4 linked regions of the Homo sapiens genome follow. The protein of the gene in region 1 interacts with the protein of each later gene in a pairwise test. Each region holds a gene or a part of one and is shown on either strand. Other genes may lie near its edges.

Region 1 (7,477 bases):
TCCCGCAGTGGTCCCGGCGGGCCTCCCTGAGTCCCCAGCACCCGGCACTGGCTGGCAGCAGGGCTGACTCCAAGAGCGAGGCCCGCACCGTTCTGTGGGGTCAGCCCAGCGTCACGGATGTTTGTCTCAGGCGGCCCCAGCTCCCATGCCCCAGAAGGCCCCAGAAGGCCCCAGGAGGGAGTTGGCGCTGCGTGACCGCGCACGGCCGGCAGGCAGCACTTCTTCGTGGCTTCTTCATGGCTGTGTTTAATGTCCACTGACGGCACATGCGAATGCCATGCGTGCCCACGCTCCTGGGTGTGAGATAGTGCTCGGAGAAGCCCCAGCACTCACTGGCACCCAGCCCCATGTGCCTGTTGTGGTGAAGGAACTGCAGGCTGCCTATCTGAGACTCGGCAGGGAGTTGAAGATGAGGAGACCAGCCACACACACTCGTTGAATGAATGGGCACCAAGCACAAGTTTCAGTGCCCCCCATACATGCTGATATGGTTCGGCTCTGTGTCTCCACCCAAGTCTCACCTCGAATTGTAATCCCCACGTGTGGAGGGAGGGACCTGGAGGGAGGTGGTTGGATCATGCGGTCAGTTTCCTCCAGGCTGTTCTGACAGTGAGTGCTCAGGAGACCCGATGGTTTAAAAGTGGCAGTTTCCCCTTCTCTCTCTCTTTCTCCTGCCGCCATGTACGACCTGGGAACTGGGACTAACATAGACTTCACCTTCTGCCATGATTCTTTTTTCTTTGAGACAGAGTTTTGGCTTTTTGCCCAGGCTGGAGTGCAGTGGCACAATCTTGGCTCACTGCAACCTCCACCTCCTGGGTTCAAGTGATTCTCCTGCCTCAGCCTCTCAAGTAGCTGGGATTACAGGTGTGCACCACTAAGCCCGGCTAATTTTTTATATTTTTAGTAGAGATGGAGTTTGACCGTGTTGGCCAGGCAGGTCTTGAACTCCTGACCTCAGGTGATCCACCCGCCTCGGCCTCCCAAAGTGCTGGGATTACAGGCGTGAGCCACCGCGCCCAGCCAGATAAGTCCTCTCATTGTCCACACTTTCTGGGTGAGAAAGTGAGGCACAGAGCGTTGAGCAGATTGCCCAGAGCCTGCTCAGGAGCCAGGAGTTTACCTTTTGCAGCCACACATCTCATCTCCTGAGAGCAGTGGCCAGAAAAGGCTGTCCTGTGGACTGAGCTGAAGTCTGAGTCATCTGCTCCTTGCCAGCTGCTATAGGAGCGTGCTGGCCTGGGGTGGTCAGGAACTCCTGTACCCCTGCCCTCTTCCTCTAATTGCTGACGTACCCACAGCTCCAGCATACAGCAGGTGCTTGACAGATGTCTGTTGAATGACTGAGTGTCCTGCTGAGATATAGGGCTCCTTCTAGGAGCCAGAGTTAATTTCTTTCTTTCTTTTTTTTTTTTGAGACAGAGTCTTGCTCTGTCGCCCAGGCTGGAATAGAGTGGTGCGATCTCGGCTCCCTGCAACCTCCACCTCCTGGGTTCAAGCGATTCTCCTGCCTCAGCCTCCTGAGTAGCTGGGATTACAGGTGCATGCCACCACGCCCGGCTAATTTTTGTATTTTTAGTAGAGATGGGGTTTCATCATGTTGGTCAGGCTGGTCTTGAACTCCTGACCTCGTGATCTGCCCACCTCAGCCTCCCAAAGTGTTAAGATTACAGGTGTGGGCCACCACGCCCAGCCAAGCCAGAGTTAATTTCAAGAATGCAGAGGTCTGATAAAAGTCACACTTTATGAAAAACATTTTTTTTTTTGAGGTGGAGTCTTGATATTGTTGCCCAGGCTGGAGTGCAGTGGTGGGATCTCGGCTCACTGCAACCTCTGCCTCCTGGATTCAAGTGATTCTCCTGCTTCAGCCTCCAAAGTAGCTGAGATTACAGGCACCTGCCACCACACCTGGCTAATTTTTGTATTTTTAGGGTAGATGGGGTTTCACCATGTTGGCCAGGCTGGTCTCAAACTCCTGACCTCAGGTGATCTGCCCACCTCGGCCCCCCAAAGTGTTGGGATTACAGTTGTGAGCCACTGCACCCAGTCAAAACATTTTTTTAACTAGCACTAATGTGCATGTGAAAAACATCTTTGAAATGCTCGTGCACTTTCTGCATTTGATCTTGGTGAGAAGTCAAAATCTGCTCCAAGACCTGGCACTATATTGGGGCAAACAGTCAGTACAGCTATTGTGTGCCTGCCAGCATGCTGTCATTACTCCTATTGCGTGTGCCTGCCAGTGCACTGAGAGTCAGTACACCTATGGCATGTGCCTGCTAGTGTGCTGTCAGTACAGCTGTTGTGTATGCCTGCTAGCACGCTGACAGTCAGTATGGCTGACAGTCAGTACCCCATTGCGTGTGCCTGCCTAGGTGCTGACAGTCAGTACCCCTGTTGTGTGTTCCTGCTAGTGCACACTGTGCACATCTACTGTGTTCCTGGCACTATGCCACGGGCTTCCACACACCTGGTCCCTGTGCTCCAGATGAGGACACAGAGGCTCAGAGAGGGCCTGGCCAGAGTCACAATGAGTGTGAGGCATTGCGGTGCTCTGAGCCTGACTGGGTGGGTCCTACCCCACCCACATGAGAAGACTCTGGAGGTCCCAGAGAGGGCTACTTCTCTTGATCCCTAGCACCTGAGCTCCAGCACCCGGGGCTGGAGTCTGCCTGAAGGATGCTGACCATCCCCAACTGCTACTGTGGTGGCCAACAGGGAGGACACAGCTGCTGTGGTGGGCAGCTCTGTGTGCCTCTCTGCCCTTCTTCCTCCTTCGCAGAGCTGGCTTCCTAGGAATGGCCCAGGGGCCAACACCTCTGTGTGTATATTAGTTTGATATGGCTTCATAGCAAATCACCACAAAACCAACAGCTTAAAACAACTCTCATTCATTACCTCCTAATTCTTAGTAACCCAAGGCTGAAACCAAGTGGGCAGTTGGGCTCAGTTCTTGTGTGGAGGCCCTGGGGTCAAACCTGCCTCCAAGCCCATTCTCTTCTTGTTGGCAGAACTCACTTCCTTGCAGTTAAGGTCTTGTTGTCTTGCTGGCTGTTGGCTGGGAGCAGTTCTCAGATCCTTGCCACGTGGCCCCCTCATCTCAACAACAGAAAACCTTCTTTGGTTTGATCCCTCCGATTTCTTCAACCAGGCAAAGGAAACTGCTTTTAAAGGGCTCCTGTGATGAGGTCAGGGCCCGCCTGGTGATCCTCCAGTCTTAAGGGTACCTCTGGGCCACACAATGTCACATTCCTGGGCATCACCCCCACCAGACTCACAGTCCCGGGGATGATGCCGGCTTGCACGTCAGGGGTCAGGACTCTCCAGGCCACCCTAGGATGTGACTGGCCTTGGGTGCTCCCACCGCACTGCTAGAGCTGAGGCTTGCCCCTGGCTTTTGTGTTGCTGAGCCAGCCTCATGGCTCTGCAAGTCTCCTGAGGTTTTCAGGGTTTTGCTCCTGGCCCTATGACTTAGTTGCTTGTAGGGCAAAGCACTTTTCTCCCTGCCTCGGTGGCTTCATCCCTGCAATGGCAAAGACGCTCCGTTTGCCTACCAGGCTTTCCCTTTGGGAGTTATGAGGAGAGGGGGAGGCAGGATAGGTTGCCCCCCACTCACTAAGTGCGCACAACCCTGGCACCCCTCCTCTCCATCGTCTGGGGGCATCATTGTTTCATCTTACCCCTGAGAAACAAAGGCCCAGCGAGGTCAGACGCTTGCCCTTGGCCTGGGCCACACAGTGAGTGAAGGTCTGAGCCCAGGCGGGAAACCACCTCTTTCACGGCAAAGCCTTTGTTCTGGCCTCACTCCTCCACTTTCACTCTTCTCCGCTCAGATCCTGCCCATCCCCTGGGCTCACAGGAGATGCCCCTTGGAGGCCTCCAGGCCAGCGCCCACCCCTGTGGCTGTGGCATCCTCTCCGATGGCAGGCACAGACCTGGACCCTGTTGGCGCCAGCCCAGCCTACAGCGGCCTTGGCGGCGAAGAGCTCTGCGGCCCCACCCCATGGGTGGGACCTGCTCCTCCGGCATTGCCCCTGCCCCGCCTGCCCTGGGGAATGGGGGCTCATCTCCACCCCCACCCCACTCTCAGGCCTCACAAAGCCAAGTTGGAGAAGCAGCTGTCCCGCTGTGAGCGGTTGGAGGGTGGGGGGTCTTGTTGCAGTTCGGGTAGCCCCCCTCCTCCGCCCTCTCCCCCTGAGAGCCGCGGCCCCTTCCGCAGCCAGGCGCTTGCTCCTCTCTCTCTTCCTCCCTCCCTTCCTCCCTCCCTCCTTCCCCCGCCCCCGCAGTCTCTCTCTCTCTCTCTCTCCTTCCCCCAACCCTCCCTCCCTCCTCCCCCCGCTCCTTCCCCCAACCCTCTCTCTCTCTCCCTCTGTCTCCCTCCCTCTCTCTCTCCCGCCGCGCCCGCCTCCCGCCCGCCCTCGCTCCCTCCACTCCTCTCCCCTCCCCTCCCCGGCACTGCAGCACCAGCCGTCTGCAGCTCCGGCCGCCACTTGCGCCTCTCCAGCCTCCGCAGGCCCAACCGCCGCCAGCACCATGGCCAGCACCATTTCCGGTAGGCTCCGGGGCCACGGGCTTTGTGGGGCGGCGGGATCTGAGCAGAGGCCTCGTCTGGCCTCGCCTGGGGCAGCGGCCGGCAGCGGACGCCAATTTCCCTTCTCCTACCCTGCGCGTTGCAAGCCTGGGCCCGACCCGCCCGAGGCTGGGGTCTGCGGCGCCGGCGGGGCTGGTGGGGCGCTGGGCTGCGAGGCGCCGCGCCGGGGAGCGCTCGGGACCGGGACGTCGGGCGGGGGCGCCTCGCCCCTGGGGGAGCAGCGTGCCACGCAGGGCGCGACTGCCGCAGGGTGGCTCCCAGACCCGGGCGTGGGCTCGCGACCGGGTGGGCGCGCTCGCGATGTGCGGGCGGGGTCCCTGGGGCGTCCGGCGACCCGAGATCTGGGTCCGCCAGAGCCTTCGTGGGGAGGCGGGGAGAGGGTGGGACCCTCTGCCAAAGCCCCAGCCGGGAACCCGGCGCTCCCCGCGCCAGTGCAGCACAGGGGCTGGAGGGGGCGCTGAAGGAGGGGGGCGGGCCAGACACGGCGGAGCCCGGAGTGAGGGGGACCGCGCCCTCCCCCCACACCGCTGCGGCCTCGGGGACCACCCTTTGCGACGCCCGCGCCACCTGCTCTGGCCAGAAAAGCCACTGCCCTTTGCGCCGCGGGGTCTGGATGGGGGAGGGGCGACTGCGATCCCCAAACCCTCCGGAGACCAGAGGGCTCCGCCCCTCCCGCCCCTCCACCTCCCGCGGGGCGGACCCACCGCCTTCGAAGGTAGCGCCCACCCCGGCCTCCCGGCCCGTCCCGCGCGGAGCTCAGGCGGAGGGGCGGGCGCAGGCCCGGGCGGGGGGCGGATTCTGGACGCAGGGGAGCTGCCGGGCGACCTCGGGCGCGAGGACGCTGGGCCCGCCCTTCCCGAAACGCTCTGCTCCGCCGCGAGGCCGCAGAACCCGCTTCGTTTTTCACTCGACGTTTGGGAGGACAGGACGAAGGGCCGCACCTCCTTCCCATCGCCGCCCCCGTTCACGAGCCGCACTCCCTCCCACCTTTTCTTACGCCCCCGGGACAGGTCGCCGCGGTCCCTCTCCCGAGCTGACTGGTTCAACTCGGGCGCCTTGGCCCGGGGCGCAGAACTCCGCCCACCCACGCGTGCCCGACCTGACCCCGCCCCTCAGGCCCCACGGGCTTGGAGGCTCCAGGTGACTTCAGCACCTGCCAGGAGGGGACCGTGTGTGTCACCGGCCACACCTCCCCACCCTATCTGGGAGTCCTGTCCATCTGCGCTTCCTCCCTCCGCCTCCTCCTGGACACCCCCGGGGATACTGGGGGTGGGGGGGCTCTCAGCGGAGGGGACTCCCCTCCTGCCCCTGAGGGCAGCGCCGTCCTCTCCAGGGCCGCCTCCTGCCCTTCCTGACAGCCTTTCCCTGACGGTCCCTCCCCATGGGCTCGGTTCCTGGGGCTGAGCTGGGAGGGCGAGGGCATCTCGGCATCTGGGCACTGGCTCCTCGCTCTTTTGTGGCCTCTGCTCACATTCTCCTTCTGCAACCCAGAGTCTGACCTCCTCCAGCTGTGTGGTGTTGTCCGAGCTGCCTAACCTCTCAGGACCTGGGTCTCCTTATCTGGGTAGAGATGACGGTGCTGGCACCTCTCCTGGGGCTTGTTCTGAGGCCTCAATATTTCAGGAAAGGTGCTTGGCCGCTTGCCTGCTAAGAGATGAGTGCTCACCGCACGTCAAGCAGCCTGACTGTGGTAGCCACATTTCTGAGTTTCCTGCCCAGGGAAAGGCAAATCGGCTGGTGGCTCCTGCCATGCTGTGCTCCTGGCACCATGAGAAGCAGCCTGGGTGACAGTGACCTCCATCTGCCCCCGGGGGGAGCCGGCAGCAGCCTCCAGGGCCCTCCAGGGGTCAGAGGCCACTGTGGTCCCCTGGCCTCTCAGTTCTGGACAGATCCCCCACCTCCGCGAGCTCCCAACAGGAGCCTGCAGTCAGGCCCAGGCTCATGACTGGGCTCTCACCCGGCACTCTGTGTGATGCTGGGTGGAATGCTTGCCCTCTCTGAGCCTTCATTCCTCCTCTGTAGAAGTGAGGCAGATAGGGTGGCTCATGCCTGTAATCCCAGCACTTTGAGAGGCTGAGGCCGGTGGATAAACTGAGGTCAAGAGTTCGAGACTAGCCTGGCCAACATGGTGAAATCCCCCCTCTCTGCTAAAAGTACAAAATTAGCCAGGTGTGGTGACACACTCCTGTGATCCCAGCAATCTGGGAGACTGAGGCAGGATAATTGCTTGACCCGGGGAGAGGGAGGTTGCAGTGAGCTGAGATTGTGCCATTGCACTCCAGCCTGGGCAGCAAGAGTAGAAACTCTTTCTAAAAAAAAAAAAAAAGAAGAAAGAAGAGGAGGAAGACGAAGAAGACGAAAGAGAAGGAGAAGGAGAGCTGATAAGGGCATCCACCCGGGTGGGCGGGAGGGGTGGGTGTGAGGTGTGACCCTGGGAGTGGGCACCATCCACCTGGGCGGCGGGAGGGGTGGGCGTGAGGTGTGACCCTGGGAGTGGGCACCATCCACCTGGACGGCGGGAGGGGTGGGCGTGAGGTGTGACCCTGGGAGCGGGCACCATCCACCCGGGCGGGCGGGAGGGGTGGGCGTGAGGTGTGACCCTGGGAGCGGGCACCATCCACCCGGGTGGGCGTCAGGTGTGACCCTGGGAGCGGGCACCATCCACCCGGGTGGGTGGGAGGGGCGGGCGTGAGGTGTGACCCTGGGAGTGGGCACCATCCACCTGGGCGACGGGAGGGGTGGGCGTGAGGTGTGACCCTGGGAGTGGGCACCATCCACCTGGACGGCGGGAGGGGTGGGCGTGAGGTGTGACCCTGGGAGTGGGCACCATCCACCTGGACGGCGGGAGGGGTGGGCGTGAGGTGTGACCCTGGGAGCGGGCACTAC
Region 2 (7,023 bases), on another chromosome or scaffold:
AATGTGTGTGTTAGCTTGAGAGCCTGGGGTTGTAGAGCAGAACTGTTGGCTGCCTTGCCAGGGAAAGGCCCTGCTTTCTCCCTCAGACACCTGCACTGCACCAGGAACTACATCCACCTGAACCTGTTTGCATCCTTCATCCTGCGAGCATTGTCCGTCTTCATCAAGGACGCAGCCCTGAAGTGGATGTATAGCACAGCCGCCCAGCAGCACCAGTGGGATGGGCTCCTCTCCTACCAGGTGTGTGGTGCATCCAGGACCGCCTCAGGAGGGATGGGCGGTTGGAGGAGGCCTGCCTCTGCCACCCTAGACAGGCCTGGGACAGGAGAAGACAAGAGCCGAACAGTCCTGGCCCTTCGGGAGCCCCCAGTCTGATGGGAGAGGCAGTTCGCCTTGGGACCCTCCAGTCTGCTGAGAGAGGCAGTCTACCTTAGGGAGCTCCCAATCTAAGGGAGGAGACACTGCCCTAGGGAATTCTCAGTCTGACACAAAAGAGTAGTCTTTGGAGACACACTTGAGTTTGAATGTCAGCTCTGTCACTTACTATCTGTACACTTTTAGGCAAGTCACTTACTTCTCTGAGGCTGAGAAATAGGTGAGAAGTCACTTACTTCTCACCTGCAGGGGGATACATTACTTTCTTCCAATCAGGATAGTGAGGATTCAATGAGCTAAAGCAGATAAAGTCCTTAGCACTAGCCCTAGCCAGAGATGTGAGCTCTCTCCTCCTGCATTAACCATGGCAGGATAGTGGCTGGAGCAGGACGGGGAGTGGTATCAAGAGAGGCAGAGGGCAGAGCTGTTGTCCCCATGACACCCTTCCTCTACCCCCAGGACTCTCTGAGCTGCCGCCTGGTGTTTCTGCTCATGCAGTACTGTGTGGCGGCCAATTACTACTGGCTCTTGGTGGAGGGCGTGTACCTGTACACACTGCTGGCCTTCTCGGTCTTATCTGAGCAATGGATCTTCAGGCTCTACGTGAGCATAGGCTGGGGTAAGAACCGCCATCACCCACCCTGGACCTGTGGCACGGGGGTGGGAGACCTTGACCCCTCTTCTAACATGGTACTTGGAACGCACTGCTGAGCAAGGGGCAAGGCCCACTGGGTAACCCTCTTCCTGGGCACAGGACCTTCTGCCCCGGTGCTGTTAAGATGCCGTAGGGGGTTATGGTCCTCCCCTCCTCTGCATAACTCTCCTCCCTTAATGGAAGCCTCCACCGCATGTGGCCAAACACCACCCTCTACCACTATCATGCACACCACTGGAGGTCATGGCACTGTTCTCTTAAGACCACATGGGGACATAAGTTCACACCCAGTCCCGGGCAGCCCGAGGGCCTGAGGGAAATGGTGAGTCCTGGGCCTCAAGGTGGGGAGGGGATCAAGAGGGTAGGGGGCTGGCTGGGGGGAGCCTGCTGGTGCTCTGTCACATGACGATGAAGAGGAGGGCTCAGAGGAGAGCCAAGTACAGTGGGGCAGGGGGGCCAGAGGCCAGCCAAGGAAAGGGTGGACGGCGGATGTGCCTGGAGCCCAGCTGGAAATGTTCTAGCCAAAAAAGTTTGCCAAGAACCATTGTGTCTTTTTTTTTGCTGGAACATTTCTGGTTGTGCTTCTGCCTCTCACCACGTGGGATTGTAATGAGGGGCAGCATTGGGGTTGGGAAGGGGGCTGGGATCCCCTTCACCCCTGGGAAAACATGCAACAGGCCTTTCTGGAGGGACCCACGGTACCCAGAGAATAGGCCCTGCCCTCTGTCCTCCCTAATCTGCCATTGAATCCATGAGTTTTCCTGTTCCACACCATCCCCCGCCCTGCTTGCCACTCCTTCATTCACTCCTCCTTCCTTCATGCGCCCACCTCACGCTGCTCTGACCACGGCTGCCCCTGCCACGGACCTCCGGGGACTTTCCAGCTCAGTCACATCCAGACTCCTCTTCCCTGACAATGGTCCTGTCCCTGAGCCTTTGCAAGGCTGTTCTCCATGCAGGAATGTTCAGGGAGCATCCTTCCCACACCAGGGTGTCCGCTGCCTCTTCAGGAAGCTGCCTCAGGCCACCAGTCCTCGTGGTTCTGTGCTCTCTGCCCTCTCAAGCTCTCCATCCCCTGTCCTTGCACTTCATTTATTTTTACTGGTGTTCCTCAGCCATTTTTCTCTATACAGCTCCCCCCACCCCCCAGGAGAAGAGTAGCCTGAGAGATTTTAATGTGACCAGTGTCTTGAGGACACCAAGGCCCAGAGCTGGCAGGGCCTTACAGGCAGAGCAGGCCCTGGAACCCAGGCCTCCTGACTCCCAGGCTCTGGGCCTGCGGCCATCATGCCCTGTTCTCTTGCCTGGGCTGCATCCCTTCAGTCCCCTGCAGCACCCCTGAGCAGGCTCAGGCCTCTGCACAGGTGGGCAGGTAGGCCTGGCTCCTGCTCACAGATCCCTGCTCCTCACCTGCCTCCTCCACTCCCAGAACCCAGTCCCTTCCTTGGCCTTTTCTCCCCGAGGCTTCTTCCTCCTGCTAGAGCAGGAGGAGGGAGGCCATCGAGGGCAGCTCAGGGAAGGCTGTCTTCAGGGTGGGGGACGGTGTCTGTCCATTCTAGGAAATAGCATCAGCGCTGTTAGTGCCTGTCACCATGGCGACCCGAGGGCAGGAACAATCAAGGGACGTGTGTGATGTGTGCAGAGGAGCGGGGGTGGCTGGAGTTTGGTGGGGACACACTGCCCTAGAGGTCTCTGAGTGGGAGATGGGGGAGGGAGTGCCAAGTCCTTTTCCTACCACCTCACACCCTAGCTCAGGGCTCGGGGTCTGTGGGAGCACAAGGGCAAGACCCGGAGGACACCCTGCTCTAATCAGAACACCTTTTTCTTGAGGATTGGGGTGGGGGAGACGGAGAGAGATTCACAGGTTGCTAGGAGCTCAGACGTGATGCCAGGAGGCCTTGCCCAAGCTGGGATACTTGGGAAACAACTTTCAGCTTCATGTGCAAGTGGAAGAATTAAAATTAGGACTCTGACACAGTTGGAGAGGTCCCCCAAAGGGCATGGCAGCTTCTGCTGCAGTCCCCAGGCAGTTGGGGGCCTGTAGAAACCCACATGGAGGCTGTGCAAGAGGGAGGCAAATGATGGTTGAGGGAATCATTACTTCCTGGAGCCAGTTGTGTGTGTCTTAATTTGAGCTTTTTTCTCCAACCTGTCTTGCTCGTTTTCTAAATGGGAGAAAGATGAAGCCAGCAGGGAGTGCGTAATGTTTGCATGCAGCAGGGCTTTCGTGACTGTGTTTTTTGAAAAGGCCTTGTTAAGGAAATGCTGACGATGAGTGAAACTTGCCAGGTCTGGCTGATAACATGGGTGAGTGCCCTGATCCTGGAAGGAGGTCTCAGAGAGAAGGGACAGCAGGGGGCGAGGGATACCCAGAAGGAAGCTTCTGCATGTGTACGTGGTTCAGGAAATCGGCATGCTCTTGCCCAGACAATGTTCCTTCCCTTATTGGTGTGTTGACTCACCCATCATTCGTTCCATTCTCACTGGGCATCTTCTATGTGGCAGGGCCTGTACCATGTGCTGGGGCCTTTGGAGACCATCCCATTCCTTGTCCAGTCTCATAAAGGCCTGTTACTAAAGCACCGTAGATGCTGAGAGGTCCGATTTGTGTAGAAATCAATGGGCCAGGAGAGAGAGAGCTGATGAAGAATGCTGGTCCGCTGGGGGCTCCTTTGCCTCCTCCATCTCTCCCTGCATCATCAGGCACAGTAGATCTGGGCACACAACCTGCTTAGTAGCTGCTGTTGAGTGGACACTGATGTGCTAAAGACATAGACAATGGTGACAGGAAAGGCTATGAAGTGGTTCTGTCCTGGAAATGTGCTCCAGGCAGAGATTCCCAAAGTCATACGTGCACACTCATGGTCCACCCACCACACCCTCACACACACATGTCTACATACCTTAATATGCACATGCTTACCTATCTCAGACACATCTCCAACACTGAGGGAGGGGCCAACGGAGACGAGCATGGAGACAGCCAGTGCAGAAGGCCATTGAGGGCGGTGGGAGTGGGTATGGGATTGCAGCCCTGAATTCGAGCCCCACCTGTGCCCTTCTGAGTCCCTGATCCATCTCCTCATATGTCATGTGAGGAAGGAAAATCCAATTTTAAATCAACCAACACAGACCCTGAGCTCTCAGGGTGATCTGGGCATTGAGGCTCTGAAGGTGAGTGAGGCCCAGGCTCTACCCTCAAGGAACTGGGAACCAGTTGTATTAATTCTCTATTGCTGCAGAACGATTAACCCTGAAACTTAGCTACTTAAAACAACGAACCATTGTTATCTCACAGTTCCTGTGGCCTGCAATCTCGGTTCAACTTAGCTGGGTACCTTGTGGCTCAGGATCTCACAGAGAAAACTCTTTAGGCAAGAGCATGTGGATTTCCTGAATCACATACACATATAGAAACTTCCTTCTTGGGCATCCCCCACCCCCTGCTGTCCCTTCTCTCTGAGACCTCCTTCTAGGATCAGGGCACTCTCAGAGAAGCAGCCAGCTGTCACCAGGGTTGCTGTCATCTCAAGGCTTAACTGGGGATGGAGAATCTACTTCCAAGCTCATTCAAGAGGCAGTTGGCAGGAAGCCGCAGTTGCTGGCCAAAGGCTGGAGGCCTCCATTTCTTGCTGCAGAGACCTCCATCTAGGCCTTCTGAGTTCTCTCAGCACATGGCAACTGGTTTCCCCCAGAGCAAGTGATCAGAGAAAGAGAAAGAGAATGCAAAACAAGCCACAGTGTCTTTTATAACAATCAGAAGTGACATGCCATCACTTCTGCCAGAGGTTCCTGGGTCACATGAAACAATGCTGATACAACGTGGACTAACTACCCAAGGGTATGAGCACAGGAGGTGGGGATCCCTAGGGGCCATCTTAGAGGCTGTCTACTACACAAGTCAAGTCTCAGCCGAGTGGAAAGTAGTATTGTTGTAGCTGTTGTTATTGTAGGCCACTGCGGACAGTTAGTTGGTCAGCTGGCATCAAGGACTGGGCTCCTGTCTCCATTCCAGGATTCTGCCGAGCCCTCTTGAAGGTGCACAGTGGTAGGGAAGAGATGACTGAAAGGACATCCAGTGCCTTTAGGAGTTGACTGGCAACGTGGGCTGAAGCAAGAGAGAAAATGGGCATCAGAGGGTTCGCCTGCTCCTTGCCTCATCCGTCATGCTGTCCCCACCGCATGGCCCAGTCCCGCTGCTGTTTGTGTGTCTGTGGCCTGGTAACTTAGCCGGGACTCTGAGGGCAAGTCCTGACAGTGTGCCTGGCACACAGGAGGTGGGGGACTGATGACTGATGAGGACCTCTCTGTAAGGAAGAGTCTGGGGGTCCGCATGGGGCTCCTGCTGCCTCTGTTCTCCCAGGTGCCCAGAAAAAAACTAGAAAACATAGTTGGAGGCCAGGCAAGGAGAGGGGCTGGAAGTGTGAGGGGCTTGGGGCAGGGAGAGGCCTCGGCATGTAGACTGTGGCTCTGGCCTGCCAGCCCCTCTCCCCTTCTGTCTTTCCCTCTCTCTTAGGTGTTCCCCTGCTGTTTGTTGTCCCCTGGGGCATTGTCAAGTACCTCTATGAGGACGAGGGGTGAGTGTCCTGCTCCAAGGGGGCGGGTGTGCCCAGGTCCCCATCCTCAAGGTCCATGGGATTCCTTGGTACCTGGGGCACCCATCTGTTGAGAGGATAAAGGGGGGTACCAGGAGCTTAGAAGGTGAATTTAGTTCTCTAATCTCCCCTCCCTGCCCCTGCCCCTGCCCCTGCCCCTGTCCCAGGATTGTTTGATGACTAACGGAACTGGGTCTGTGGGGTACATGGTGCCCTCCTGCAGGTTTTTCTGTAATATCTGCAAGTGAAATGTTTGTGTCATTTTGTATATGATGCTGGGTACACACATGACTGTGTTGGTAGGTCCTTGAAAGCTTGTTTGGGGGCTGTGTGCATCTCTGTGTATGACTGTGTATTTGGACTATGCGTGTGTGTTGTGTGGCTGTGCACTGGCAGGGCTCTGTGGGTCCATGGGACTGGTTTTTGGGTGGCTCCTGGGAGCTGTGTGTGTGGCACTCAACATGGCCATGTGCATTGGCGGCCTCTGTGCCTGCACCTGAGCTGGGGGTCCTGTGAGTCCTGCTGGATGCATGTGTGCATCTCTCTCCCTCCCCAGCTGCTGGACCAGGAACTCCAACATGAACTACTGGCTCATTATCCGGCTGCCCATTCTCTTTGCCATTGGGGTGAGTGATGGTGTCAGGGATGGGAGTGGCAGCTATGATAGGGCTGGGCTGGTGCCCCCTGCCAATCCCCGGCCCCACCCCGCAGGTGAACTTCCTCATCTTTGTTCGGGTCATCTGCATCGTGGTATCCAAACTGAAGGCCAATCTCATGTGCAAGACAGACATCAAATGCAGGTGATGTAACTGAGCTGGCTTTACTGAGGACCCTCAGCAAGTGCCCCTTTCCTTCTAGCAGAGAGAGAGAGAGAGATCCTGGGATGCTTAGCTTAGAGCCCTACACTACCCTCTCCTTCCACCCAGGCCTGGCCTTGGACCCCAAACCCTTGCTTTTGCCCTGTCTCTGGGCAGCCCCTGGACTTGTTGGGGTCTTGACCTCTATTCTTTCCCTCCAGGCAGCCTGTCCCAGGGTATTTGGGGTGGGAGAACATCCATGACCCAGATATCAGGACTTGGTAGGAAGTGGGGAGGGTAGAGAAAGGGAAGAAGAGTCCATGGGAGAGGTCCAGAATGACTCGAGATCTCTGCCCTGCCCCTCAGACTTGCCAAGTCCACGCTGACACTCATCCCCCTGCTGGGGACTCATGAGGTCATCTTTGCCTTTGTGATGGACGAGCACGCCCGGGGGACCCTGCGCTTCATCAAGCTGTTTACAGAGCTCTCCTTCACCTCCTTCCAGGTGACTTCATGCTTGGGGACACTTGCTTGTAAAGTCCTAGAGTGGGGGTGGGACAGACACCAGCCTGCATCATGCAGATGGAAAAGGTGGGAAGAC
Region 3 (7,023 bases), on another chromosome or scaffold:
ACCCATATAATTCTAGCACTTTGGGAGGCCAAGATGGAAGGATCTCTTGAGCCCAGGAGTTCAAGGCTGCAGTGAGCTATGATCTTGCCACCGCACTCCAGCCTGAATGACAGATACCCTGTTCCCCTGCCCCCACCCCACAAAAAAAAAAAAAAAAAAAAAAAAAAAAAAAAAAACAACAACAAAAAAACACTTTGTTATTGACTAGGGTTATTTATTCTTACTGAAAAAGGAGACAGTTAATTTTCAGAGTAAGGAATTGGTGTCCTATTTTCTTCCATTGGTGTCTACCTATGTTGTGGTTGTTTTTAAATTTTTGTTTTATTTAGTTTTTGACTTTGTCTCTTTTTAAAAATACCTTTATGGACTCATAGATATTTATGTACTTAATTGCATTTATTATTATTTTTGATGCTCAAATTATCTCATCCTTGGCCAATGGATGCCCTTTTATATTGCCTCTGTGTCGTTTTTTTTTTTTTTTTTTTTTTGAGACAGAGTCTTCATCTGTCTCCCAGGCTGGAGTGCAGCCGCACCATCTCGGCTCACTGCAACCTCCGCCTTCTGGGTTCAAGAGATTCTTCTCCCTCAGCCTCCCAAGTAGCTGAGATTACAGGCCTGCACCACCATGCTAGGCTAATTTTTGTATTTTTAGTAGAGATGGGGTTTCACGATGTTGGCCAGGCTGGTCTTGAACTCCTGACTTCAAGTGATCTGCCTGCCTCGGCCTCCCAAAGTGCTGGGATTACATGTGTCAGCCACTGCACCTGGCCCTCTGTGTCCTTTTGACAATATTTCCTTAATCTTTGATACCTTCCTTGCTTTTTGTCAAAACAAACTGTTCTAGGCTTGTGATAATTTTATGTGTCAACTTGACTGGGCCTTGGGGTTTCTAGGTATTTGATAAAACATCATTCTCGGTGTTTCTGTGAGGTTGTTTTGGATGAGATTAGCATTTAAATCCATAGACTGAGTATAAAGCACATTGCCCTCCCTAATATAGGTGGGCCTCATCCGATCAGTTGAAGGCCTGAATAGAACAAAAAGACTGACCTTCTTTTGAATAAGACAGAATTCTTCATGCCTGATTGCCTTTCAGCTGGGACATTTCCTTTTTTTCTAGTCATTGAACTCAAACTAAAACATTGGCTCTTTCTGGGTCTTGAGCCTGCTGGTTCTCAGGCTTTAGGACTCAAACTAGAACAAAACCATTAGTTCCTCAGCTTGCCAGCTCACCTTGCAGATCTTAGAACTTGCCTGCCTTCATAATCACTTACTCTGGAGAACCCTGACAAATACAAAATTTCTCTCTTATATTTTTTGTCCTACACCTGGAATCAGCCATTGTGCCAGGAAGCGCTGTTATCATTTAGTGGAAATAATATTTCAAGAAAACTTGGGTGCTAGGTTTACTCATAATTCTTGGGTTATCATTGCTTCCAGGTTTTTTCAGTGAACAAATCTTGGAAATATGCATATTTTTAACTTATTATTTTGAGATAAGTTTAGATTTATAGGAGAGTTGCAAAAACAGTGTAGAGAATTCACATATACCCTTCACCTGACTACTTCTTAACATCTTACACAGATGAAAATCATGGAAAAGTTATCAAAATGGAGAATTTAGCTTTCATGGAATACTGTTAACTGTGAGATTTATTCAGATTTCATCAGTTTGTCCACTAATGTGTTTTTGCTACTTGAGGACCATAGATTGCATTTAGTTGTCATGTATCCTTAGTTTTTAGCCTTGAGAGGAATGTGGCTATGTGTCCTGAGTCACATAGCATGCTGCTACAACTTCTGCTTTTCCAATTACAGATTAAATCTTCCTTATTCTTGTTCTGTAAATGATTAGGAAAGACACCAGAGATAAGACCCCTCAAGATCATTACCCTTTCTCATGGAATGTTCCTTGGAATGCAACTAATTAAATTGCTATAATATGTATACTGACCTTATATGGAAAATGTTGCAACCCTGTTAAGCTTCTCTGTCTCTGCCTATATAAGTGAAACCTTAACTTCCCCACGTTGGAACAATGACCCATTATTTTGGAGTTTGTGTTTCCTGAGTGGCTGTCCTCAAGCTTTGCATTTGAATAAACTATAGTCACATATATATATATATATATATATGTATTTTTTTTTTTTTTTTTTTTGAGACAGAATTTCGCTCTTGTTGCCCAGGCTGGAGTGCAATGGCGCAATTTTGGCTCACCACAACCTCTGCCTCCCGGGTTCAAGTGATTCTCCTGCCGAGGCCTTCCAAGTAGCTGGGATTATAGGCATGCACCACCACACCCAGCTAATTCTGTATTTTTAGTAGGGATGGGGTTTCTCCACGTTGGTCAGGCTCGTCTCCAACTCCCAACCTAAGATGATCTGTCCTCTTCGGCCTCCCAAAGTGCTCCCAAAGTGGATTACAGGCATGAGCCACCGTGCCCAGCCAGTCATTGTTTCTTCTCCAATCTTTGTCTCCTCTAGTTTGTAAGAATTCTTCACTTTTTGCTGTCTTTCATGACCTTGACAATTTTGAAGAGTACACGTTAGTTGCTGTAGTAGTTTTCAATTGCTAAGTAACGAATTACCACAAACTTAGCTGCTTAAAACAACACCCATTTATTATCTCAGTTTCTGCAAGTCAGAAATCTAGGTGTGGTGTAGCTGGGTACTAAATATATTCCCAAGAGATAATTGAAGGCATATATCTACATAAAAACTCATACACGAGTGTCTATAACAGCATTATTCATGACACCCAGAAAGTAGAAACCCAGATGCCAGTCAGCTGATAAATGGATAAACAAAATGTGTTACATCTATACAATGGAATATTACACAGCCATAAAAAGGAATGAATTACTGATACATGCTACAACACGGATGAACCTTGAAAACATTTTGCTAAGTGAAATAAACCAGATACAAAAGGCCACATATTGTGTGAATTCATTTATATGAAATATCCAGAATATGCAAATCCATGGAGACAAAAAATAGATAAGTAGGTGCCAGGGGTTGGGGGAAAAGGTGAGAGGAATAGTAAGTGACTGCTAATAGGTTACAGGTTTCTTTTGGGGTGATGTAAACATTCTGGAGTGTTGACATTTTATGCCACACACAAATGTACACACAGATGTGCTATATATAGTGTGTACATACAATCACCTATATATATCTATAGCATTTATAAAAATATAACATGGCAGCTTTATAGCTGCCATAGCACAAATGTTTATAATATATAGCAGCATTATTTATAAATGTCAAAATTTAGAAGCAACCAAGATGTCCTTCAGTAGATAATGGATAAACTGTGATACATCCAGACAATGGAATATTATTCAGTGCCAAAATGAAATGAGCTATGAAGCCATGAAAAGATGTGGAGGAACTTTAAATGCATATTACTAAGTGAAAGAAGCCAGTCCAAAAAGGCTCCATTCTGTATAATTCCGACTATGTGACATTCTGGGAAAGGCAAAACTATGGAAACAGTAAAAATGTAAGTTGTTTTTAGGATTTTAGGGAGGAAGGGTTGAATAGACAGATCACAGAGGATTTTTAGGGTAGTGAAATGATTGTGTACGGTAGATACATATGATTATGCATTGCCAAAACCCATAGAATGTGTACCACCAAGAATGAACCTTAATGTAAACTATGGACTTTGCGTGATAATGATGCATAGGTTTAAGTAATGTAAATACAGGTTTACTGAGTGTAACAAATGTACCAGTCTAATGGAGGAGGCTGATAGAAGGGGAAGCTGAGCATGTGTAGGGACAGGGAATATATGGGAACTCTGTGTACTTTCTGCTCAATTTTGTTGTGAACCCAAAACTTCAAAGTCTATTTTTTTTAAGGCTCTGGAACTAGATAGTGGTGATAGATACACAACATTGTGAATATACAACATCACTGAATTGTGAATTGTAAAAGGTGAATTTTATGCTATATGAATTATATCTCAATTATTAAAAAATAACATGTACCAAGAATGTTACATAAATGGCATCAAACTGTATGTAATCTTTTGGAATTAGCTTTTTTCACTTAGCATAATTCATGGAGATTCATCCAAGTTTTGCTTGCATTCTTTTTCTTTTTATTGCTGAGTAGTATCCCATAGTATGGATGTACCACAGTTTATTTGACCACTCACATGATGAAGGATGTCTGGAGTATTTTTGGTATTGGCTATTATGAATAAATCTGCTGTAAACATTTGTATACAGGTTTTTAAATAAAAAGTTTTCATTTCCCTGGGATAAATGCTTAAGAGGTAAAATTGTTGAGTTGTGTGATAATTGCATGGAGGCTTTTTTTTTTTTAAGAGACAGGGTCTTGCTCTGTTGCCCAGCTGGAGTGCAGTGGCATGATCATGACTTACTGCAGCCTTGAACTCCTGGTCTCCGGCGGTCCTCCTACCTCAACCTCCTGATACAGCTAGAACTACAGATTTGTGCCACCACACCTGGCTAATTTTCTGTAAGGACAGCACCTCTCTATGTTGCCCAGGCTGGTCTCAAACTCCTGGCCTTAAGGATCCTCCCACCTTAGCCTCCCAAAGTGCTGGGATTACACGTGTAAGCCACAGCGCTCAGCTGCATGTTAGTTTTATATCAAACTATAAAACTGATTTTCAGAATGCCTGTACCATTTTACATTCCCACACAGCAATATATGAGTGATAGTTTCTTGCCAGCATCTGGTGTTGGCACTGTTTTTTGTTTTAGCCATTCCAATAGGTACGTAGTAATATCTCCTTGCAATTCTAATTTGCATTTCCTGATGGCTAATGATGTTGAATATCTTTTCATGTGTTTTTATTAGATACTGAATTTAATCAAGCCTCTAGATCTTTCTGCCATTTTTACAGGAAATATAAAAGAGAAAAAAAGTTCAGTGATATATCCTGGGGAAGCAATCAGTCAAATGCAAAATGTGGAACATTCTACGGGATGTATGTCCTAATTTCTATAACAAGTCAGTGGCTTGGGGGAAAAATGTGTGTAGAGGTGATTGTTACAGAATATATAAGAGACTTAAGAAAAATAATAATTAGATGCAATATGTGGATCTTGTTTGGATTTTGATTTAAGCAAACCAACTAGAAAAGTATGTTGAGACAATTGGGAAAGCTTGAATATGAACATGGTATTAGACATTAAGGAATTATTGTTAATTAGACGTGTTGATGACATGATTGTTATATTTTTAAAAATTCTGATCAGGTAGATATTCATACTGAATTATTTACATGGTAAGTGACATGATGTCTAGGATTGTTTTAAAACACCCTAGCAGAAAAAGAATAAGGGAAAAAAGAGTGAAATGGAAGGTAGAGAAAAAAGATTAGCAGAATGTCGACAATTTTTGAAAACATGTGTGATGGGTACCTGAGAGTGTATTTAAATATTCTTCTTACTATTGGCAATACTTGAAATTTTCCATGATAAAATATTTTGAAAAAGTATTTATTGAAACAACATTTTGTATTTTAAAATAAAACATCATCAATTGTTGGCCTTAAGGCATTTAGTTTTCTGTTATAAAACAAATTCAACCTTGATGAAAAAAATCTGATTCTAGAGGACAAACAACGAAGTTAAATTTTTCGTTCAGGCAGAAGAAAACAAGAGATTGAAAGAACTCCAGCTCAAACAAGAAGAAAAACTGGCTATGGAATTGGCAAAACTGAAACATGAAAGTCTAAAGGACGAAAAGATGAGGCAACAAGTAAGAGAAAACAGGTATCTTGGTTTCTCTAAATTTCATTTATTTAGTCTTTATCTTTAAACTCTTATGTAATCCTTAGCACCTGAAAGTGAAATTTCTTTGTTTATGTCATTTCACTTAGTTAATATTTTACCTGGAAATACTTATTGCTTTAAGTTCTATAAATATTTATTTGAGAAAAGAAGTTGTATTCATGGAAGTCTGAATATTTACAGTGAAAAATAAATATCAGTCCCCCTGCTCTTTCCTTTACACATAAATTTTAAAATGACCTCTTATAAAAAATGAATTCCTAATCTTAAGAGAAACCTTAGGTAATAACTAGTTTAATTTTATACCTCTACATAAATTTCCTACAGTATTTCTGGAATGACTGTGGAGCCTGTGTTTCAGTACCTCTAGTAACTGCAGTAGGAACTTTAGTCTTAATGTTAAATTATCTTCCCCCCCATTGTTTTAAAATTAATTTCTCTGTGACTTCATGCATCTGTCTTCTTTAGATGTCCTTTCACATATATGAACGCACTAAATGTTTTCTTCTGTAAGTTAGCTATCCCTTGTTCCTTCAGTTGTTTCTTACATAACCTGGCTTTAAGTTTATTCATCATCCTGGTTTCTTCTCTGATTACAGTTTAAATTATTAGTATTCCTTAATTGCCCCCATACTTCCGTATAATACTCCAAGAAAGACTGCCAGATACTCCAGATGACAGGACACTATTCTAGAATGTTTCTTGATCCTGCCTAAGATCGAATTACTTTTTAGGAACAGCCTTGTCACAGTGTTAATCAAAACTCAGGGCCAAGTAAATGCTAATCATATACTTATGTAATTGAATATATTGGAAATTTACTTCGATAGTTGTTACATTTTATCTTAATTGAGCAGGACGTCTGTAGAATATTACAGGAAACATGGATGAGCTTCATGGATTTTGAACCTTGTTAAATTATATTAATATGTTTGGCAAATGTATCCATGTGTATTTTTCTGGCTCCACAACTCTAATCAGATTCTCTAAGAGATTACCGATCCTTAGAAATTTAGAATTACTGTTAAAATCTGCTTATTGTTCTAGTCTCAAACTATCTTTTTGGGCCCTAATTCTCCAACCATCATTAGCTGTTACTCATGGTTTTTTTTTTTTTTTTTTTTTTTTCACCTGACGATGAACTATTTCTTATCTCTAATTCCCTGAAAACAAGAATTAAATAGAAGAGATTTTCACTTCTAGCAATTGCAGATTAGGTTATTCAGATAAATGTTCCTCCTGAGAAA
Region 4 (7,023 bases), on another chromosome or scaffold:
CTCCAAATCAATGTAATCACTCTTAGGTGATGGTTTCCAACTATTGTTGGAAAGGATTAGGCAACTGAAGTTCCAAAGATGAAAAAATCAATTTAATGATTCACAAAGAAAACACTCATTTCCTTACACGCTCACAAATGCTCCAAATAGAGACAAGTCCTCATTTAAACCCAGCCTGATTGTTTCCACAAACAGGAAAAGTTCACTAGACTCTATAAGGTATCCTGGGGAAGAACCACGCCAATCCATTATTATTAAGCAACATGTTTATTGGCGTTGATGCAGAGACTTACACAAGTCTTCTTTTTTAAGAGAAAAATTACAAGGTATTCAAGTTACGATTTTTAGATAATCTCTACATTTGAGACATCAAATTATAAAAGGTCAGTGTTACCCCATATGACATTTGTTTTAAAAGTTTAAAGGTTACCAGGTTTGCAGCTTTTAAAGATATGAATGTCCTGGGCCTTACCCCTTTGGTGTCTGAGCTAGCAGCTGCAGAGAGGCCCTCTGAATACACAGTATATTTTGCTATCCCTTCAAGTTATTAAATACCAGAAACACAAAAGGTTTTCCATAAGAAATTGTGTGATTGGACTACAGGAATTAAAACCGAACAACCTCAGTCTTGGGAGAATGTATTCAAACGTGCAATCTCTGAAGTCCCTGTCTACTGTCCAGGTGTAAAGCATGGATTTTTATAAATTAATAATGCCCAGACCTCTGCCAATGACTGTGGCGTCAGGCAGCAGGTTGGCTCAGGCTTGTGGGGTGGCTTTTGGGACAAGTGAATTATGAGTCAGTAGGCCTGCATGAAGAGGGCAGCAGAAAGGTGAGTCACATCTGGGAACACTCAACAGGCTATGGAGACAAGAACCGCTATTACAAGCCCGGTAATAAGTAGCACAGGCCAGTTAGAGCATGTTCAATGCAAATCAGAAGCTTCTGTAAACACAATCAGGCAGGATTAGAGAGGCAATGAGCGGTAACACTAAAAGCAAAGGAGCTTGTGCAATGAATTAGGGAAAGAACAATCAGGCTAGAGGTTTAGGGAAACATGGGATTTCAAACAACAGGGAAAAGTCAAATGGAATGTTTCCAAAGGGACCTAAGGTGACTGTGGACAGGGCGCAGCGCCAGGAAGCGCCACCAGGGGGCAGCACAGGCCTCCCCAGCAATCCCAGACACCCTGAGGCCTCTGCACTGCAAGCCCAGGGAGACCAGTGGCCCTTGGGGCAGGGGTGTGACCCCGTGCTCCATCACCCTCACACAGCATCTGCTGGCAGGTCTGGGAGGCTGATCAGTTTGCTTGTGCTTCTAACCAAATCATGTCACCATCTTCCTCCTCTCCTCTCTGAACCCTGTATTCCCAGGTCCTGAATTCAGCCGAGATTCCGAACGCCTGCAAAGGCCCCTCTCCATCGCGGCTGGGAGGACTGACTGGGTATTTCCTCAGGCTCCTGGGCCTGTTTGATCCTCACTCCAGCTCTGGTTCAGGTCACCCTCTGACCAGGCATTCGTCCAGCCTGGGTCGTGGACAAACAGCCCCGTGGGGTGTTCTCTGAACCATGTAGGTCAATGGACAGCTCTCTCACTGGGAGGTGTGATGTGCTTGTGTTTGGGGGACTCTGAGGGGCACTCGGCTCCCTGTCCCTGCCCCGCTGCCTGGCCCCTCCTAACATACTGAGCCAAGATCTCCAGGGAGCGGCCGGCTGAGGTAGCGAGATGAGGGCAGGCCCGTCCTCTCCCCTTGGCCCAGTGTCCTCTTGCGCTCTCGGACCAGGGCCTTCTGGTGTCGCTTCATGCGCTCCAGCTGCTCCTCTGCACTCATCTTGCCTCGCTGGTGATCCCCTGAGTACAGGCGCTCCAAGGCACTCTTAGGTCTCTGAGGAAGAGGAGGCAGGCAAGAGAGACACAGAACAGCTGGGCTGGGCACGCAGAGGACAGCCACCCTGCTGGCTGCATTCCCGTTGTCTCTCTCTCACACACATGCACACTCTAGTTGGGCTCCTCTTGGCCTTAGAGAACTATTTCCTCTAAGCAACACGATGCCCCCAACCCTCAGGAGCTTTCTGAGTAGCACCCATTCTGCAGATGCAGACACTTAGGCTCAGGCCTGTCCAGTGAGGCCAGAACCCAGGGTGCAGGCTTCTTGAGCTCCCTCCTGCCACCCTGACAGGCCAGAGAGAAAGGCAGGATGCCCTCCTTGGTGGACAGTGGGTGACAGGGAGCTCAGGAGGGGCTGAGGCCACCCCAGAGGCCATCCCCAGGGCTGAAGGGATGGCCAGTTACTGTCCCCCTGGGAGACCCTCCCTCCCCATGTGAAGGAGCAGGGAGGTCCTCGACAGCTCAAGGCCACTCACAGGGAAGGTCGCCTTGCTGCTTTCGGCATTGAGACCCCTCCGGAGTGTGACGTAGGGAGCAATGGTGGACGACTGCTGGAGCCTTGACGTGGACCCTGAGAGCCCTTAGTGAGGAAAGAGAAGTGCAAGCATGTTTGTGCTGGGGTGGATGGGTCCCTGCTTCTCCCTCATCACACATTCTTGCAGGAGTACCAAGAGCACCCAGTCAATGACCCACCCTTATTTCTCTTCTTCCTCCCCAGGGCATGGAGGAGCAAGGTCCCCAATAGAGGATGGGGGCCAGCCCAGGGGTGACCTTTGTCCCTGATGGGGGGCAGTGTCCCTGCAGATCTGTGGACCACCCCAGGCTTCCCTTACATGCAGATGACTGGGCTGCCTGGCAGGTAGAAAGGCTGGCGGGGCAGGAATGCCTTTCACCCCCTGATCCATTCTTAGGCACCCTGCACAACCCAACTTGGGGTGAGGAGGACAGTGAGAAGGACACTCAACTGGCAAGAAAGCATTTAAGGAAAGGGCTCACTGAGTCTTAGAGTGGCACTCTGGAAGGTCTGAGATGGCCAAGGTGGTGGCAGCCACCCAGCACTCCGGCCTACAGGGTGCAGTGACTCTGGAGCCAGAGCACTGGGATTGTCTTCCGGTTCCACCAATGACCAGCTAATTGGCAAGTTATTTAATTTCTCTGGGCCTTAGTTTCTGTGTCTCTAAAATGGGGATGACAGTACTTTCCTCATAGGATTGTTGTGAATATCATGTCTATATAAAGTGCTTAAACAGTGCCAGGCTTTCTAGTAACTGCTATTATCATTGTTCCTGGGGACAGATGTAACAAAAGAGGAAGAGAATCAGGATGTGGGCCAGAGGAAGACAGGCCAGGTCCTCCCTCTTGGCATCCCAGACCCCCCTGACAGCTGCTGCTCACTCCTAGGCCTAGAGCTGCAGGCAGAAGGGTACGAGGCACCAGCTGAAGGCTGGAAGCAGTGTGGTGGGATTCCCAGAGAAACTCCAGGGAGGGCCCTGCCTTACCTCTGCCTGGCAGCGTCTGGTACCTGCTCTCAGGGCCCACAAGTCCTAGGGAGGGCTGGGCCATGTCCCCGCTGAGGGTCGCCAGCTCAGGCTCACTGACATACGACCGCAGCTCCACCTGTGGGCAGAGTCCCAGGTGATGTGACCTGCCAGTGTCACACCCCTTTACCTCTCCCCACATGTAGAGTGGCAGCCCCAGGGTCCCCCGCTCACCCTGGAATCCCCATTCACACACTGCCCCAGCTCCCGGTCTCGCTTCCTCTCGTCTGACTGCCGCTTGAGGCCCCGCACAGATGTGTGCCGGATGATGGTGGCCTCTCTTGGCAGAGGCGGCACAGCCGGGGGCTGGTCCTCTGGGCTGTAGAGTTCGGGGAGTGGGGGCCTGGGAGGTGCTTCATCTTCCTGCTGAGAAAGAGAACCAGACCAGTGGTCAGCGAGACGGAGCTGGAGGGAGGACTGCTAGGTACTGCCACAGTGGAGGTTTAAAGGGTAGGAACAGGCCACATCAGAGCCACAGAACATGACTGCCTCAGCCAAGGAGCACTCACACTTCCCCTGGCGGAGCAGTGAAGAAGGGACATGCTCTGCTCCTCTATCCCCTCAGAGGTATACAGTTTCTATTCCTCCAAGTGTTACCTGTATAACTGTGTCCTGAAACCCAGGACTCAGGTCTCCTGGGTCCATGCCCTCGGTGCTGTGCTGAACTGCTCCCTCCGCTCATCTGGAGTGCACATCGCAGGCAGGCTGCTAACCCTGCCCTGACTTCCATGCTTATCACAGCACCACCTACCTGGAGAGTAACATCTACCCACTCAGCAGTGCTCAGCCTGAGCCGGCTCATTGGCCCTACACGAGCTCTGGCGCCTTCAGCAAGGTGGGGACCTGAACAAGGACAGAGTCTACATCCTCCTGGCCTTTCTATCAGAAATGTGCATGGTTACAAAATATTTCCTCCTTCCTGACTCAGACAGAACAGGCGGTCAGGATGAGTGACTCACTGCCTACCATGCAGTTCATTCCCTAGAATGTGATGAATGCAACATTTTCCTTGAAACTCCCTGTCCACAGTGTTCTGTGAGGGCTGTGGTTCCTCTACATATCAACAGACCGGCCCCTGGTTGCCATGAACACCCACTCGCAGGACTAACGACCATCATGCCTTCCACCTCCTAAATTCCCTCTTTCTCGGTCTAATTTGGTTTTGTTTTTAAGAATTTTGCAGAGTTCAGGAAAGGGCACTCCAAGCTCTTGGAAAGTTCAGGAAAGAGCACTCCAAAGCAAAGGTTTATCAACAATCTTCACTGATGTGTGAAAGTTAAGCCATCTGCCTAAGATACGCACTGGTTCTCTGAGGATCCACAGTTTCCAATCCTGACAAGATATCCGAATCACCAATTTCTAAAAAGCTCCCCAGAAAGATAAACATAAAACATTGATTGCCTTTGATTGAATGGAATGTCTGGAGGCAGAGGGTGGGAAGGAGACATGTTATTATGTACTTTTTTATATCTTTTGCTTTTGTATCTTTTGAGAATATTATCTAATTTATTTTTAAAAAGACATTAAACTCAAGAAAATAAGTCAAATAAAAATAAAAGAACTATAGCCACATGCAACAATGTATATAAATCTCACAAACATAATGTTGAAGAAAAGATGCAAGACACAAAATAGTATATAGAATTATATACCAGCATAATCACAGTGTTTAGGAGTCAACACAGGTACTAAAATTAAAAAAAAAAAAAAAGGCAAGGGGATTATTATCCAAAAAGTCAAGATTGTGGTTACTTCTGGCAGACAGGAAGCAGCTTGGCCTGGGAAAGAACCCACAGGCTTCTGGTTGCTGGCAGTGTTCTATTTCTTAGTCTAGCTGTTGGTATAAAACAGGTGGTCTCTTTATTGTTATTTGTTAAATTATATAATCCTGTTTTATGTCATTTTCAGGATGGATATTATTGTTTCACAAATATAAATGGGTTTTATTTTGTTTTGAGACAGGGTCTTGCTGTATTGCCCAGGCTGGAGTGCAGTTGTGTAATCACAGGTCACTGCAGCCTCAAACTCCTGGGCTCAAATGATCCTCCTGCCTTAGCCTTCCCAGTAGCTGGGACGACAGGCAAGCAGCACCACGCCCATCTTATAAGTGTTAAAAACAAGTAAGTAATAAAACAAATGGTAAAACTGGCAAACACACATATATTCCTAGGAGAGAGGACCTCTCCTGGTGATCCTGATGCTCACCCAAGCTGAGAAAGCCCTGCCTGAGAGCCACAGATGACCAAGCTGAGGAGGAGCCTCTGTGACCATCTACAAAAGGGAAAATGAGGAGGCTCAGGGAAGGGACGGACTTGCCTGAGGACACAGTGAGAGAATCAGTCCCGGAATCTGGGTGTCCCAGCTCCTATGCCAGTGCCTTTTTCCCCTACGCCCTGTCCCAGCTGGCAGCATTCTGCCCTATGTTGGCAGCCATCTGCCCCAGACATTCCTGCTGTTTGTTTTGGAATTTTCCCTCTCCTGTTTTAGGGCTAGAGCTCCAGTCCACCTCTTGGATCTGGGATTGGGAAGGAGATCTCAAGATGCTGAAATCCACAGTGACTCTCTGGCTGGGTGCTGGGCCATATCCTGGGTCCAGCTCTGGGCCCTGGACTATGGCTGGAAGCAGGTAGATGGTGAAGACCAGGGCAGCAGAACTCATGTGTTTTACCCAGCACTGTGCACTGACCTCATCAGAGGTCCAGGCACACACAATGCCCAGGTAAGTCTCCTCCAAGCCTTTGTTGGCAAAAATCTGGAGGGCCCCATTCCGAGGTCCACTCTTCTATGGCTTCCCTGCACTGGGACCAGCCTCATTGTGTTCTCCAGCCAAGGCTGGCCTGGCCCTGGAGGCGTGAGCTCTCTTGGGACCTGACCACATCTCCTATTTCTTTAAAGTCTCCTGCATTCCCAGACTCTGCCAAGAGCTTGGCCCCTTTCTATGCCAGGCAAACCAAGGTGCTGGCCCAGTCAGCCACAGAGGCCACAGACCGGATCTGGGACTGAAAGCCCAATTAGATGGCAGATGGCACAGAATAAAAGAGAAGGGCCAGGAGATGTGATTGGATTCACTAGTTAGCATGGAGACATTGAGCAAATGTCAACAATTTAGGCTCTTAGTTTTCTTCTCTGTGGAATGGGGATACTGCTCTTGCTGTGTATACTCTGCGAGGTTATTTTAAAGATCAAAGCATCCTCACAACCCAGCCCAGTGCTCAGCGGCGGGTGAAGGGAAGGACACTTTTCCACTGGACTGAACTCACTGCCCACAGGCTGTGTAACTGCAGGAGAGCCCCCTGCGGATTTGCACAAAGGTTTGCATGGGGACAGCTTCGTCCACAGCCACACACCTCTCTGCAGATCACAAACTCCACCCTACTCAGCACGCTCACTTCTTCTTGGTGGGCCTCAGTTTTCCCAACTGCAAAATGGGAGAGTTGGGTTAGATCATCTTCCAGGGCTCTTCCAGTTCTGACAGTCTAAGGCACAATAGCAGGGAAATACTACTTTTTAACTGCTTGTGACTAAGGACTCCTTTAGGACGCTGGCTGGGTCCATTTCCCCAAGTTTTCCCAGGAGTTTCTCTCCCAGGAGAAGGTAA

What was found.
Region 2: the proteins of STMN3 (region 1) and GLP1R interact in a protein complementation assay, tested with the Homo sapiens proteins (one study listed by BioGRID).
Region 3: the proteins of STMN3 (region 1) and MNS1 interact in binary tests that used the Homo sapiens proteins (3 or more experiments, as listed by UniProt).
Region 4: the proteins of STMN3 (region 1) and PLEKHA7 interact in binary tests that used the Homo sapiens proteins (3 or more experiments, as listed by UniProt).

What each region holds. Positions count from the first base shown.
Region 1 is NC_000020.11:63,650,402-63,657,878, reverse strand, and holds the start of STMN3 (stathmin-3), read left to right. Parts: upstream 1-4,454; 5' UTR 4,455-4,533; coding exon 4,534-4,552; intron 4,553-5,112; exon of another isoform or gene 5,113-5,306; intron 5,307-7,477. UniProt on the Homo sapiens protein: Exhibits microtubule-destabilizing activity, which is antagonized by STAT3.
Region 2 is NC_000006.12:39,072,776-39,079,798, forward strand, and holds part of GLP1R (glucagon-like peptide 1 receptor precursor), read left to right. Parts: intron 1-86; coding exon 87-240; intron 241-834; coding exon 835-994; intron 995-1,538; exon of another isoform or gene 1,539-1,606; intron 1,607-4,754; exon of another isoform or gene 4,755-5,138; intron 5,139-5,546; coding exon 5,547-5,607; exon of another isoform or gene 5,608-5,692; intron 5,693-6,121; exon of another isoform or gene 6,122-6,181; coding exon 6,182-6,251; intron 6,252-6,336; coding exon 6,337-6,425; intron 6,426-6,788; coding exon 6,789-6,927; intron 6,928-7,023.
Region 3 is NC_000015.10:56,455,129-56,462,151, reverse strand, and holds part of MNS1 (meiosis-specific nuclear structural protein 1), read left to right. Parts: intron 1-2,141; exon of another isoform or gene 2,142-2,524; intron 2,525-5,630; coding exon 5,631-5,758; intron 5,759-7,023. UniProt on the Homo sapiens protein: Microtubule inner protein (MIP) part of the dynein-decorated doublet microtubules (DMTs) in cilia axoneme, which is required for motile cilia beating.
Region 4 is NC_000011.10:16,787,412-16,794,434, forward strand, and holds part of PLEKHA7 (pleckstrin homology domain-containing family A member 7), read right to left. Parts: intron 3,792-7,023; coding exon of another isoform or gene 3,789-3,791; coding exon 3,600-3,788; intron 3,505-3,599; coding exon 3,387-3,504; intron 2,468-3,386; coding exon 2,364-2,467; intron 1,886-2,363; coding exon 1,685-1,885; coding exon of another isoform or gene 1,676-1,684; exon of another isoform or gene 71-1,675; intron 1-70. UniProt on the Homo sapiens protein: Required for zonula adherens biogenesis and maintenance. Acts via its interaction with CAMSAP3, which anchors microtubules at their minus-ends to zonula adherens, leading to the recruitment of KIFC3 kinesin to the junctional site.